Homo sapiens: one gene and its partner. Each later gene encodes a partner of the first gene's protein in a complex. Each region holds a gene or a part of one and is shown on either strand. Other genes may lie near its edges.

Region 1 (5,006 bases):
ATTCCAAAATGTTGAGATACTGGGGAGAGATACCAATATCATCAAGCCAGACCAACAGAAGTTCCTTCGATTTGCTCCCACGGGAGTTCCGTCTGGTGGAAGTCCATGACCCACCCCTGCACCAACCCTCAGCCAACAAGCCGAAGCCCCCCACTATGCTGGACATCCCCTCAGAGCCATGTAGTCTCACCATCCATACGATTCAGTTGATTCAGCACAACCGACGTCTTCGCAACCTTATTGCCACAGCTCAGGCCCAGAATCAGCAGCAGACAGAAGGTGTAAAAACTGAAGAGAGTGAACCTCTTCCCTCGTGCCCTGGGTCACCTCCTCTCCCTGATGACCTCCTGCCTTTAGATTGTAAGAATCCCAATGCACCATTCCAGATCCGGCACAGTGACCCAGAGAGTGACTTTTATCGGTAAGGCAAGGCTTTGCTGTATCTTACTTTTCTCAAGTCATCTTCCCAACAACCCTGTTAAGCCTATAATAGCATTTCCATTTTCATGCGAGGAAACTGAGGATAAGAGTAATTGACTTGGCCAAGGTTTCTCCAGGTAATTAGTGGGATATCTAAGTTTTGAATGCCAGTCTTCAGAATTCAGGGTCTGTATTTTTTAATTTTTTGAGTGCTTACTATGTGCCAAGCACTTTACTAGGAGCAGGGTAATACACTGGTATGTAAAAAAGGCCATGGCCTCATAGTTCTTAGGATCTAGTCTTTCTATTTAATATAAAAAAAAATTATGGGTTTAGCTCGTTGTCTTCAAATTGGGATTCATGGACTTATTCTGGTATTTTTAGGAATCCGCAAGTCTACACAAGAATCTTTAAATTGTGTGTTTTCATTTTGATAACATAGTTCAAGAAATAATAATATAAGCTGAGCACAGTGGTTCATGCCTGTAACCCCAAGACTTTGGGAAGCCACGGTGGGTGGATCACTTGAGGCCAGGAGTTCAAAATCAACCTGGCCAACATGGCGAAACCCCATCTGTACTAAAAATACAAAAATTAGTCAGGTGTAGTGGCGCACATCTGTAGTCCCAGCTACTCGGGAGGCTGAGGCACGAGAATCACTTGAACCCAGGGGAGGCAGAGATTGCAGATCACTCCACTGCACTCCAGCCTGGGTGACTGAGTGAGACCCTGTCTGGAAAAAAAAAAAAAGAAATAATAATATAAAAATGTTATTGATCCCTGCTACTCAATATCTGGTCCAAGATCTGCAGCATCAACATCACCTGGCAGTTTTTTAGATATGCAGAATCTCAGGCCTCACCCAGTCCTGCTGAATCAGAATCTGCATTATAACAAGATCTCCAGGAGATTTGTATGTGCATTTAAGTTTGAGAAGCTCTGCTCCACATCCTCTGAACGTGACTGCCTTATAACCTAGAGCTGCTACTAGATGTCAGTGTGCAAGTTGTATTTAATGCCAATTACTTTTTTATTTTCATTTTGAAATTTGCCAAACCTACAGAAATGTGTAATAGTCAACAAACATCCAAATACCTTCACCATGACTCACTAATGTTTAACATTTTGCCACATTTACTTTCTCACATATGTGTGTGTATACACATATATACACACATATACAAACATACATATATGCATACTTGTATATGCACACATTTTTTCCCCCATTTTAAAGTAAGTTGCAGACATCACCATATTTCACCCCTAAATTCCTCAGCATGCATATCCTAAGAATAAGGAAATTTTCCTGCATAATCATAATACCATTACCAAAGTAAATGAACATTAAGTACCATTTAATAAGTTCATATTCACATTCTTCCAATTATCTTTTGTAAGTATATTTACAAAATATCTTTTGTAAATGTCTTTTCCCTCGAATCCAGGATCTAACAAAGATTCATGCATTGTACCTGGTTGTTATGCCTCTTTAGAGTCTTTTATGAGTTCAGGTCGCTTGTAGAATGTCCCAATTACTGGATTTGCTGATTATTTCCTCAAGATTAGATTCAGATTAAATATGTTCGGCAAGAATACTACAGAAGTGATATTATATGTTATTTATTACATCTACCTGTTGCTGGTAATACTATTTTAGTGGTTCCCAAACTAATGAGAAAAGTACAGAAATAGACTAAATACACAGGGGTTGCATTGCAGTTGGGCCAGGTGAAGGCCAGATTATATCAAGGTCCATTGTAATCAAAGGTTCTGAAGTCACTGGAATAATGAAAAGGGGAGGCATAACTGTGTTATTACATGCACAGCATATGCTAGCATAGACACGCCCAACTCAAAAAACTTGCTCTGTGGTGATCAATACTGTATTCACATATTGAGGGCAATTTAATTTCAACAATATAATGTTATCTATCATATTAAATTGATGCTGTTTATTCATTTTTAGTTTTGTATCAAATTTATATAGTAAGAGCCATGACCATCAAAAGTTTGTACCTGGTTTTATTTTATACATATTTAGGAAACTGTATAACAAAAATAATTTGCATCAGTTATGGGGGCACCAAAAAATTACTTTCCTTTGAAAGAGGTCCAGATATTATTCTAGGAAAGTGATATTGGTTTAGTTGTCTCTGTTTATTAGGTACTTATGAGGCCTTTAGCTTTTGGCCCAGAGACACTGGCCATGGAAATGATGAAGATAGTAAATGAAAAGTTACTTGGCAATTAGTTATCTTATTGTCAAACTATTATGTAAACTGCAATAGTTGCTATTGAACAGGTCAGAGTTTAGTGGGTGGATAACCACTCAGGCACTTTTGTACAGTGCGTGATGACACATGCCAAGTACGAACCAAGGAAAAATGATTTTCTGTGCTCTATTTTATTTTTATTGGTAAAATAAATTCCTTTGTCAGGGGTAGGCAGAAGCCAGTAGGAAATTTCAAGAGACAGGTAAATTATTAAAAGCTTCTTAAGTTATTTTTAGATCAAATAGCTTTCTTAATTTTTTTCTTGGAAAATTAAGATTTCTGCAGTAGTGATTAGGGGCAAAATGGTGTATTATGCAGGATACGGTTTCTGGAGTCAGAAGCTTTACCACTTACTAATTATATGTAAACAAATTTTGGCAAGTCAGCCCTTCTAAACCTGTTTCCTCTCCTGGCAAATAGAAATAATAATAATACAGACCCTACCCATTGCACAACACAGGATAGGATGAAAATGCTTTGTAAGCTATATATGTTTTAAATTGCTTTTATAAAATTGAGTTGACTTCCCTGTTTTGAAATGGTCCCTTGTAACTTTATAAGAATCTAAGAATCTTAAACTCCTGGGAACTGTGAAGAATCTCTTTATTGGAACTGTGAATTTCTAAAAGTTTGTATTAATATATTGCCCAGCATGTATGAAAACTAGGTTATGGTAAAATAATTAGAGCATCATTGAGCAGTGTCTGGGCTATACTGTTAAACTTAATCCTAAAAGTGATCAAAATTGAACAGTTGCTAGAAGGAAACTTTCTTTTCACTAGATATCCTTTTGGATTGTGTATTATAGACATGTATTGCCTATTCAAACTATGTCTTTGGAGGAGCTCAAAGATATGACCATGGGTTGCTAAGACATGCCCAGATAGCAGCAGGATGAAACTGAGCTATGTAACTTGGATGGAATTTCCCTGGAAAGCTAGGCCAGTGGCTTGACTGGAATTGTAAAACTCCTGGGGAAGACAGGAGGGGTCACCCCTTTGCAAGAACATTAATAACACCACCGTATCTCCACTTTCAGTGGGAAAGGGGAACCTGTGACTGAACTCAGCTGGCACTCCTGTCGGCAGCTCCTCTACCAGGCAGTGGCCACAATCCTGGCCCACGCGGGCTTTGACTGTGCTAATGAGAGTGTCCTGGAGACCCTAACTGATGTGGCACATGAGTATTGCCTTAAGTTTACCAAGTTGCTGCGTTTTGCTGTGGACCGGGAGGCCCGGCTGGGACAGACTCCTTTTCCTGATGTGATGGAGCAGGTATTCCATGAAGTGGGTATTGGCAGTGTGCTCTCCCTCCAGAAGTTCTGGCAGCACCGCATCAAGGACTATCACAGTTACATGCTACAGGTGAGGCGACCCTGTTGAAAAGTGGGCACAGATGTCTGTGCAATCTCGGAGTGTTCAGCAGGATCCCACAACACTTGGTCTAGAGTGCAGAGCACAGAGTCTTGGAACAGAGTGAACTTAACATACTTTTATGATGGCCCTAGCGATGTTCCTGGCCAAATACCATGGGTCTCCTTTAGTCAGTGAATGGCCACATTCACTGATACTTCCTCTGGAAGAAACTATCCACAAGTATATGGAATCTGAGAGAATGCAGTTAGTCTGATTTTATTCAACAAGTATTTATTGAGTGCCTGTTGAGAGTCGAGCATTGTGGGATTCAGCAGTTACTAAGTTACCTGAGTTTACATTGTTTTTGAAGGGAGACAAACACAAGTCAATAAATAACAATCAAAACAATTTCAGGAGCTGGGCATGATGGCACATGCCTGTAATCCCAGCTACTTGGGAAGCTGAGGTGGGAGGATTGCTTGAGGCCAGGAGTTCAAGACCAGCCTGGACAATATAGTGAGACCCCATCTCTACAGAAAATTAAAAAATAAAAATTAGCTGGACATGGTAGCTCATGCCTGTGGTCTCAGCTACTTGGGAGTGTGAGGTGGGAAGGTCACTTGAGACCAGGAAGTTAAGGCTGCTGTGAGCCATGATTGTGCCATTGCACTCCAACCTGGGTGACAGAGCAAGACCCTGTCTGAAAAAAAAAAAAAGAGAACACAGACCTACTGACAATCCTCCTGCCTCAGCCTCTCAAGCAGCTAATATAATGGTTTGACTGGAATTGTAATATATATATCTAATATAGCTGCTTGGGAGGCTGAGGTGGGAGGATTGTTTGAGGCCAGAAGTTTAAGACCAGCCTGGGCAACATAGCAAGACCCTGTCTCTAAGCACATACACAAAAAAATACAATTTTGGATAATGTTAAGTGCTATGAAAAAAACAGAGT
Region 2 (5,006 bases), on another chromosome or scaffold:
GCCAGAGACTTGTGGAGGAAGGAGGTGCCAACTGGACCTAAAAGGATGAATGGAATTAACTTGTCCCTGGGAATCCATGGACCCTCCTTGAGGAAGGCTATGACTCAAGTTGTATTTTAGCATCTAAGAACCTGGGTAACTGATTGAGAGAAGGCATCTCAGTAGTGGTGACATCGAAGTGAAGGTTTGCTGAGAGGACTCTTCTGTTAAACAGTATGTGACTGGCATGGGTGATACAGAAGTGAATCAGTATAGATGAACAAGTGAATGAGATTATGAGAAGTATATGAATAAAGTTCTAGGAGGCCAGGCACAGAAAATGAGCTGAATTTTGAAGGATGAGTAAGAGTTTACTAGGTAAAAAGAGGATGGGGAAAGACCCAGGAGCCTCTGTAGATTCTAGATCCTAATTTATTCACTAGAGGAAAGAGATATTCTGTGTTTTCCCTTCTCCCCCTCAGTGACACTTTCTGTAAATTTCAGATCCTCACCGACTGGCAGGATAAGAAAGGTGACAGACGATTCCTGAAGCTGGGTCGAGACCATGAACTTGGAGCTCCCCCCAAACATGGGAAGCCCAAGAAGCAGAAACTGGAAGGGAAGGCAGGACATGGGCCGGGCCCTGGCCCAGGACGGCCCAAATCCAAAAACCTTCAGCCCAAGATCCAGGAATATGAATTCACTGATGACCCTATCGACGTGCCACGGATCCCCAAAAATGATGCCCCCAACAGGTTCTGGGCTAGAGAACATAGAAGGGGGCCTCAAGGTTCTGGTGGTGGAGGCACTGGTGGGGCAGGGGCGCCCACTCAGGATCTGCTTCTCCCTGCAGGTTCTGGGCTTCAGTGGAGCCCTACTGTGCTGACATCACCAGCGAGGAGGTCCGCACACTTGAGGAGTTACTGAAGCCCCCAGAAGATGAGGCTGAGCATTACAAGGTAGAAACTCTGGGCCTTGATAGACATGATGCGGAACAAGAGAGTTCAGAGGTGCCTGAGAAGTAAAGCTACCAAAGCCATGCATCATCTTCCTTCCCCAACCCTGCCCAGTCTGCTGTCTGCTCCATCAGTGCCTCCAGACACCTAGGCCCAAACTCAGCTTTCTCCGTGCACTGCCTCCCCTCTACCCCAGCCAAATGTCAACACGCCCTCAAGCATCTACTTAAGTGAAGTCTGCCCATGTTCCTTTATCCCCATCCCCTCTGCTTTGGTCCAAGCCTTCATCAACTTCTATCCAAACAGCCTCTTAACTCTCTTCCTGTTTCGAGGCCTCTGGAGGAACCTTTCTTCTTTCTTTAAGATATAAAACTTGGGCTGGGAGCAGTGGCTTATGCCTGCAATCCTAGCACTTTGGGAGGCCGGGGCGGGCAGATTGCTTGAGCTCAGGAATTTGAGACCAGCCTGGGCAACATGGTGAAACCCCATCTCTACCAAAATACAAAAAATTAGCCAGGCATGGCGGTGTGCGCCTGTAGTCCCAGCTACTCGGGAGGCTGAGTCAGGAGGATCTCTTGGACCCGGGAGGTGGAAGTTGCAGTGAGCCGAGATCACGCCACTGCACTCCAGCCTGGGCAACAGAGCAAGACTCCGTCTCCAAAAAAAAAAAAAAGATATAAAAGTCACCTCACGCCTGTAATCCCAACACTTTGGGAGGCTGTGGCAGGCAGATCATCTGAGGTCAGGAGTTCAAGACCAGCCTGACCAACATGGTGAAACGCCGTCTCTACTAAAAATACAAAAATTAGCCTGGCACGGTGGCATGCACCTGTAATCCTGGCTACTCGGGAGGCTGAGCCAGGAAAATCACCTGAACTGGGGAGGCATCGGTTGCAATGAGCCAAGATCGTGCCACTGTATTCCAGCCTGGGTGACAGAAGGAGATTCCATCCATTAAAAAAAAAAAAGCCGGGTGCGGTGGCTCAAGCCTGTAATCCCAGCCCTTTGGGAGGCCGAGGCGGGCAGATCACAAGGTCAGGAGATTGAGACCATCCTGGCTAACACGGTGAAACCCCGTCTCTACTAAAAATAGAAAAAATTAGCCGGGCGTGGTGGCGGGCGCCTGTAGTCCCAGCTGCTCGGGAGGCTAAGGCAGGAGAATGGCGTGAACCCGGGAGGCGGAGCTTGCAGTGAGCTGAGATTGTGCCACTGCACTCCAGCCTGGGTGACAGAGCAAGACTCTGTCTCAAAAAAAAAAGAAGATATAAAACTATGTTTTAATGATGAAAATAAATAAAACATGCTCCATTAAAGAAAATTTAGAAAATACAGAAAAATGTTGAGGGAGAATCCTCCCATAGGTGAGCTGTCATGATCAGATGTGCTCATGACATGGCGCTGCATCCAGGCCTTTCTTCCTCCCGTTATCTACAGGATCAAGTCCACGCATCCCAGTCCTTGCTGGCACAGCTCCAGTGCCCCTCTCCATTTTCCTCGGCCATATCCCTCTTCATTGCCGTGTTGACCAGTCCCACCAAGTATCTCGCCCTCATTCCAGGACACCACAGCCTCCTCGCTGGTCTCTGGGCCTCTGGCAAGCTCTTCTCTCCCTCTTGTCTCCTTGACAGACTTGACTCACCCTTCAAGGCCCTGATCTCATGTTACCTCCACCAAAGCACTCTTTCAGATTCCCCAGCAGAAAGTTAGTCAGTCTCTCCTTTGTGCTGCCACAACACTTTGATCTCTCTCTTTCACTTCACTTATCTGATTTCTTAAAAATTTATCTGAAAAAGAGTTCATACAGACAGCAGTAAATTCAAGCAATACAAAAGGTAATTCCCTGTCACCCGTGACCTGAAGGCTCCTAATTCTCTCGAGAGGCAATTGCTGTGACCTGAGACAATCTGTGTACGTATTCTGCACCTTCTATCTTGGGAATTATTTCAGATTGGCTTCTGTGTGTGTGTCTTAGTTCTTTTTGGACCTGTCTCCCTTACTAGAGTGTGAAGTACAGGTTTTATCTTCGTTGTACTTTCTTACCTACACCTGACACTGGGCTTGGCCTTGGACTAGGGACTTGAGAGAGATATAAGATAGGTAAGTGAATGAATGAATGAAGCATGGCTGGCCAGTGCTTACCCACTCAGGGTTGGGTGCCATCTTTTCCACAGATCCCACCCCTGGGGAAGCACTACTCCCAGCGCTGGGCCCAGGAGGACCTGCTGGAGGAGCAGAAGGATGGGGCCCGGGCAGCGGCTGTGGCTGACAAGAAGAAAGGCCTCATGGGGCCACTGACCGAACTGGACACTAAAGGTAGGCCTCTCACCTCCCTGCCAACCCCAGGTCAGGACTTGAATTCCAGAACTTCAGCCCACCTCCCCTCCTTTCCTGTGCCCGCTTAGATGTGGATGCCCTGCTGAAGAAGTCTGAGGCCCAGCATGAACAGCCGGAAGATGGATGCCCCTTTGGTGCCCTGACGCAGCGCCTCCTGCAGGCCCTGGTGGAGGTGAGCAGCCTAACCCAAAAGAGGAACCATATTTACTTTGTGTTTTAATGTGTTATGCTTATTTTTTATCGGAATTTATCATACATTTATTAGGTTGGTGCAAAAATAGGTTGGTGCAAAAGTAAAAACCTGGACTAATATATAGCAAAAGATTGGGAATAATATATAACTTGTGCACCTAATAGAAAAGTGCACAGATCATAAATGTACAGTTTTCACAAATGAGCTTGTATTACCAGCCTGGAGATTACAAAATGAAACATTACTATATCCTAGAAGCCCCTCTCATGCCCCTGTTTTTCTCCAACTTTCCCCAAAGGTAGCCTTACTCCACAATTACTTTTGCTAAGCATCTGTTGGAGGGGCTTTATACACATCCTCCCACTGGAGGCCAGGACAGTGGTTAACGCTGTGTTACAGATAAGAAGATTGAGGCTCAGAAAAGGGAACTGTTCACTTGAGGTCTCACACACCAGGATTCAAACCCTAGCTTCAGGGGCCCTGTCTTTATACCTGCTGGTTGACCTTAGACACACCCTCACACTCTTTCACCTCATTGAGACTCAGTTTTCTATTCTGGCTCAAACACAAGAGTTTATCTCATGGAACAGTCTGGGTACATGTTGCAGGTTATCTAAGGTAGGGGAAGGGGCAGGTCTCTATCTCATATCATCAGACAGGGACCCCAGCTGACGGTGGCCTTGCAGTCTGCACAAGGTCACTCTGGGCGTAATTGTCACTCCAGTCCCACAGAATAAGAGCAAGGAGGCCGGGCGCGGTGGCTCACGCCTGTAATCCCAGCACTTTGGGAGGCTGAGGCGGGCGGATCACAAGGTCAGGAGATCGAGACCATCCTGGCTAACATGATGAAACCCCGTCTCTACTAAAAATACAAAAAAATTAGCCGGGCATAGTGGCAGGCGCCTGTAGTCCCAACTACTTGGGAGGCTGAGGCAGGAGAATGGCATGAACCCAGGAGGCGGAGCTTGCAGTAAGCCGAAATTGTGCCACTGCACTCCACAGCCTGGGTGACAAAGTGAGACTCCATCTCAAAAAAAAAAAACAAAACAAAACAAGGAGGAGTGTGTGAAGGAAACTTTTTGGCCCATGCCTAGCTATGGCTCTTATCTCTTCTGATCACTTTCCCCTGGAGAGAACTTGTCACATGACCATACCCGCCTGCAAGAGAGCCTGGGAAGTACAACTGGACAGGCATTGCCTAGCTGCCGTGGAGGAAAGAAGAGTATGGCATTCGGACAGCTAGCATCTCCGCCACAGCAGGCCTAGCACACTGCCTGGTGCGTTGCAGACGCTTCACAAACCTTAGCTGTTCATTACCATCATTGAGTGTTAATCATTTCTCTTCTGTGTTCCTTTTTCTTCACATCAGTACGAAAATAAAAGGGATTTCTAGAATGATCAAAGCAATTTGGGATTGGTATGGGAAGGCTTCCCACGGTAGGTGGGATGGGAAAGATAAAAGGATATTTCTGGTGTTTGAAGACTGTCAGTGTAGGTCAGAAAGGAGCAGGAAAGTGGAACAGCTATTTTTCCTTCCACTCATT

Evidence for each region. The genes of interacting proteins can lie anywhere in the genome.
Region 2: SUPT7L (region 1) and TADA3 share a complex: the UniProt entries of both Homo sapiens proteins name them as parts of the STAGA transcription coactivator-HAT complex.

Annotation. Positions count from the first base shown.
Region 1 is NC_000002.12:27,656,399-27,661,404, reverse strand, and holds part of SUPT7L (STAGA complex 65 subunit gamma), read left to right. Parts: exon of another isoform or gene 1-8; coding exon of another isoform or gene 9-16; coding exon 17-421; intron 422-3,735; coding exon 3,736-4,060; intron 4,061-5,006.
Region 2 is NC_000003.12:9,785,441-9,790,446, reverse strand, and holds part of TADA3 (transcriptional adapter 3), read left to right. Parts: exon of another isoform or gene 1-483; coding exon 484-734; exon of another isoform or gene 735-832; coding exon 833-938; exon of another isoform or gene 939-2,642; coding exon of another isoform or gene 2,643-2,719; intron 2,720-3,106; coding exon 3,107-3,248; intron 3,249-3,337; coding exon 3,338-3,441; intron 3,442-5,006. UniProt on the Homo sapiens protein: Functions as a component of the PCAF complex. The PCAF complex is capable of efficiently acetylating histones in a nucleosomal context. The PCAF complex could be considered as the human version of the yeast SAGA complex.